Regions from separate parts of the Homo sapiens genome. Here region 2 is linked to region 1. A link means that fine-mapping ties the variant in region 1 to the expression of a gene that starts in the linked region. Tissue or cell type: liver. Region 1 holds a variant in brackets; the other region holds the start of a gene. All regions are shown on one strand. Distances are between the middles of the regions.

Region 1 (2,691 bases):
AGTTCTGGTGGTGACTGCAGTTAATATTACCTATTGTATACTTGAAACTTGCTACGAGAGTGGACCTTAAGTGTTCTCACAAAAAAACAAAAGGAGAAATATGTGAGATGACAGGCTAATTAGCCTGATGTGGAGAATCATTTCACAGTCACGTAGTACACCTTAAATATGTACAATGTTTATTTGTCAATCATACCTTACCAAAAAAATTATACAAACTTCAACAAGTAGCATATGATTTACGTGTTTTTTTTTTTCATGAAAATATAGGTTGAAAAGATGCTAAGCAATTTTGGGGACTGTGTCCAGTACAAAGAAATAGTCAAAAATTCTCTCGAAGAATTAATTTCTGGCTCTAAAGAAGTCCAGGAACAAGCTGAGAAGATCTTGGATACTGAAAATCTGTTTGAAGCACAGCAGTTACTTCTTCATCACCAGGTAAAAATGCCTCTTTCTTCCAACAAGATTATGTAAAGTTGATTTGCTACTGAAAGAACCAGAGAGATAAAGAATACAACCACTGGCTTGAGAGAGTGGGTGAGGGGGCATGGGAAGGAAGAGTTGAATGGCTAAAAGAATTTGGCGCTTCTGGGTTTTGCTTTCTCTGTTAAATATTAAACATTTCAGGATATTCTGCAACATAAATTTCCAGACCGAGTGACTTGATGACATCAAAAAGTTCAAGGAATACTGTGGAGAGAAAATTGATTTAGCTATGAAAAACTGCACAAAACGTGCTAGATTCTCCTTTTCAAAACAGATGGAAAGGCATAGATGGACCAATTGCTTCCTATTTGAGATCACTGTTCTTTTGTCATTATATTAAAATCTTTCTCTTCAACTTACAACGCTGAACACACTTTAGTTTGAGAAATGATGACTTACTTGAAGTACTAGACCTTCCTGGAGTGTACACTCTTATAAAGATTAGAACTAGAAATAAAGAAATTCTGGTATATATACTGATAAGAAGCTATTTTAATCAACTTAATTTCTGATAGTCTGGTAGTGCACATTACAAATGTTTGCATAAAAGGAATATATACCTTGTTAAACGCAATATAAATGGAAATTTGATTCAAATAAAATATTTTAATGAAAAATTCTAGCTAACCTGATACACAGTAGCAAAATGGTAGCTAATTTATATAATATGTTTGTGTGTGTATTATATACATATATATTCTGTAATATATAAAAACGGAAGTTGCATTAAAAGTATGTTTAAAATCCCAGCCTTCAGGATTTCTAGATTTACTTAATAATTATAAAAAGGCTGAGTATAGGCCGGGC[A/G]CGGTGGCTCACGCCTGTAATCCCAGCACTTTGGGAGGCCGAGGCGGGCGCATCACGAGGTCAGCAGATCGAGACCATCCTGGCTAACGTGGTGAAACCCCGTCTCTACTAAATATACAAAAAATTAGCCGAGCGTGGTGGTGGGCGCCTGTGGTCCCAGCTACTCAGGAGGCTGAGGCAGGAGAATGGCATGAACCCGGGAGACGGAGCTTGCAATGAGCCGAGATTGCCCCACTGCACTCCAGCCTGGGCGACAGAGCAAGACTCTGTCTAAAAAATGGCTGAGTATAAAAAATTAATATTTGGTGTTACATTGTTCTCAATCATTGTGAAATGGTTTTTTGGGTTTCCATTTACTTTAGGTCCAATAAATTTAAGATTATAGATATTTATGTTAATATTTTAAAATGCTTAGGCCAGGTACTTTTTATATGGGTGCATTTACTTTGTGAAAATTTATAAGCTGCATATCTGAGATTTATGTACTATTCTATTTGAAGATTATACTTCAATAAAAAGTTTACTTTAAGACAATTTCCCCCCACAAAATCTCAGCAAATTAACCATTCCGAATATACTTAGGAAATAAATATTTATTCATTTATTTTTGGAGACAGTGTCTCACTCTGCCACACAGGCTGGAGTGTAGTGGCACAATCATAGTTCACTGCAGCCTCGAACTCCTGGGTTCAAGTGACCCTCCCACCTCAGCCTTCCGAGTAGCTGGGACCACAGGCATGTACCACCACACTTGGCTAATTTTTTAATATTTTTGTAGAAACAGGGTCTTGCTATGTTGCCCAGACTGTTCCAAGCTTTTGGCCCCAAACAGTCCTCTAGCTTTGGCCTCCCAAAATGCTAGGATTACAGGTGTGAGCCACTGCACCGCCCCTGGCCATAAATCTCTTAATATTTGCATTTTAATAAAATAAATAATTTTTAAAAATTGGAGTTGGGACTTTGTGTTTTTAAGCAGAAAATAATTATTTAAGAAGAATCATGTCAGATGAATTGTTTTGCCAGACTCTTCCTAGAGTATTGCACAAAATGCTAAATATTCTCCAAATTTGCACACAAAACACGAAAGCCAAATTATTTATGTTGTTTACCATTAAAAACATACAATATTTATAAATAATGTTCATCTTTGACTAATATAGCAACCGACTACCATTTCAACTGTTAATCTTAGCTTTAAAATACATTTCGGGCCCACCTTTCTGTACTTCTGTTAAGCGTGGGTGTTGATGTCCCTACTTAGCTGTTTAGAGAGCACAATTTATATCCATCTGTTGAATAAATGCTTCTAGCAAAAGACAAAGCGGATCTCAGCAAAGAAGAGAGATGTGCAGCAGCAGATCGCGCAGGCGCAGCAGGGAGAAGGGGGGCTGCCTGACC
Region 2 (2,691 bases), 190 kb before region 1:
TTGCTTAACGTGTAGAATAGCAAGTTGGTGGCCAGGTGCAGTGGCTCACACCTGTAATCCCAGCACTTTGGGAGGCCGAGCTGGATGGGTCACCTGAGGTCGGAAGTTTGAGACCAGCCTGACCAACATGAAGGAACCCTGTCTCTACTAAAAATACAAAATTAGCCAGGTGTGGTGACGCATCCCTGTAATCTCAGCTACTCAGGAGGCTGAGGCAGGATAATTGCTTGAACCTGGGAGGCGGAGGTTGCAGTGAGCCGAGATTGCACCATTGCACCCCAGCCTGGGGAACAAGAGCGAAACTCCATCTCAAACAAACAAACAAACAAAAAGAATGGCAAAGTTGGCACAATAACTTTCTACCCATCTTCAAAAGCCGGCAGGGTGGATTGATTCTATGAAGGTAGGGATTGAGAGGGTGAGCTGAGCCATTCTGATCTGTTTCTTCTGAGTGGCAAGCCTGGAAATCTGGACCCCATTTTGTGGCCACTGGGCACAGAGGGCTGACCTGGAATAATTATGCTCTGGTGGTTGTCTCCACAAGGGGCTCTGGGGGTGCCCCAGGATTGTTGCCCTCAGGCAGAGGCAGGGCATACATTGAGAGTGATCCCAAACACTCCTCCTCCAGGCCCAACTTTTGGAGGTAGCAAGTTCTGCAAATAGAGATCCATTGTTTGGTTTCTCTCTCTAAAAAAAAACAAAAGTCAGCACAAAGAAGAGGAACACATCAGATTGGTTTACCAGATTTGTTTCAGATGTTATTATTTTGACACGATCCAGAAGAAGGAGAATTTGAAGAAAATGGAAAGCTAGGCAGTGGGAATGTTGGCAGCAGGTAAGGGAAAGGCAGGCAGCAAAGAGAAACTTCATCTACTTTATAAACTGCTCCTTCCTTTCAGCAAATTTAGAGGATAAATGACTGTTTTGTTCAGATTGGAGATTCAAGGGGGGGATTATTACTTTTAAGATTATTGCAACATGGCTTCGATTATTTTAGCTGCAATCATCCTGTTGGACTTGGACTTCACTGTTGGTGAAGAGAGACTGTGTTTGACTTTGCCTGGATACCATAAAACCACAACAAAATAAATTCTCCTGAATGCTACCAGGCAACACCAAGATCTCTTACACCACGAGAAGGACTTGTGGCCAAAGATACAAATGGCTCCGCAATGTACAGGGTGCATACAGTGCACCTGAAGAACCTAAAAGTGGTTTTTAGAATCATCATAATAAACAGTCAAGAATTAAAGATGTCAAGCGCTTTCTCAAGAAGTCTAAACTTTATACATAACATTAAAAAAGATCTATAAAGCCTGACCAGTCTCCCTCAAATTAAGTTATTTGCTACTGACTTGGCAGCCAAAACGATTTAGGATCTTTCGGAAGTTGATGAAAAAGGAGCCAGCGGGTTTTGCTCTTTGCTCTGCATCACGCCCTTCCTGGGACCATCAGGGAACCTCCCAGCCTTTCAGGATAGGTTCCGCTCAGAAAGGTCACCCGGGCAGTGGAAACCGTGGGCAAAAGTTAGCTGGCAGGACAGCGCAGCTCCTCCAGGCAGCGGAGGCAGCGCGTCCCGGCTCTCAGGGACATTTCCTTCCCACCTCGACCCCCGGGAGGTGGTCCCGGTATAAAGGCTCGCTGAGCGGGTGGGTCACAGCACAGCTTTGCAGCTGCGGAGAAACGCCCAAGGCCGTGCATCTCCAGGAGGTAGGGAAGCCTGCGAGCCTCCGGGTCCCCGCCCCCAGCTCTTCCAGGCACCGGCGCATCCCGGAGCCGGGCGCGGGGCGCGGGGCACGGAGCCGGGGAGGGGGTGTGGCGGGCCAGGGCGGTGCAGGGACCCTGCCCAGAGGCTGAACCGGCCTGGGCGACCTTCCTTCCCGACAGGAGCAGTAGATGCGTGGGGGAGGGCGAAGGGGGAGGCCTCACCCCCCAGCGAGCAGCCGGGAGGAGGAACCGGTCGCGGAGGGCGGGGAGCGCGGCTGAGCAGCCCGGCGCGGGAGTGAGTGTGGGCGAGCCAGCCAGGGTGAGCGCGGGCGCCGGGCCGCGGCCGCCGGCCGCAGCGGGCTGAGATTGTTGTCCTCTGTCACCAGGGCGGCTGGGCTCCCGCAGTCCTGCAGACCGCGCCCGATCCCGGCGACAGGGCGGGCGGACAGCCGCGCATCCCCGGGGTCCCGCCGAGCCTGGGCGCAGAGAGCCGGGAGGAAGCGTTCGCTCGCTTCGCCTTGCTGCTGGGAAACTGAACGAGGCCGAGAGAGAAGGTAAAAGGAAAGACAGAGACTGGGAGACAGGGAGAGACAGAGACAGGGAGAGGAGAGAGAGGTGCAAGACGAACACATTGCAGACAAATTGTCAGCAAGTTTGTGCCTGCACGCTGGGGCTCTGCGTGCTTGATGGGAGGGGGTGGTGGCAGTGATGTGTGTACGTGTGCGATACTCATAGATAAGGAGACTAGGAGGTTGGGGAGCCTCTTTGCATCTCGTACGTAGATGTCCCTATTAATATCCCCCTCTCTGAGTTGTCATTTCCGCTTGTGGCACATCTCCTGGGCTCCAATGGTGCAGAAGCAAAAGGCAGCCAGCCTCTTATTGTGATGGTCGGTACTGTTGCTACTATCAGATGGGAGAGGTAGGGCGTTGAACAGATTCTAGGAGCCTCCCTTCCTCCACCCCCTGACTATTTTAGGAAGGG

What was found. PIP is the estimated chance that this variant, and not a neighbour inherited with it, causes the effect.
Region 2: SYNE1 starts here. The variant in region 1 is fine-mapped to the expression of SYNE1 in liver (GTEx, PIP 0.92).

Annotation. Positions count from the first base shown.
Region 1 is chr6:152,442,158-152,444,848 of GRCh38, reverse strand. It overlaps SYNE1 (spectrin repeat containing nuclear envelope protein 1), which reads left to right. Exons shown (of 146, transcript NM_182961.4): 30 at 271-438; 31 at 2,604-2,691. Among named protein-coding and RNA genes, the nearest start is that of SYNE1-AS2, 41 kb to the right of the region's middle. The variant A/G (reference allele first, on the strand shown) is at 1,294.
Region 2 is chr6:152,636,208-152,638,898 of GRCh38, reverse strand. SYNE1 (spectrin repeat containing nuclear envelope protein 1) reads left to right here and starts at 1,537. Exons shown (of 146, transcript NM_182961.4): 1 at 1,537-1,710; 2 at 2,094-2,261.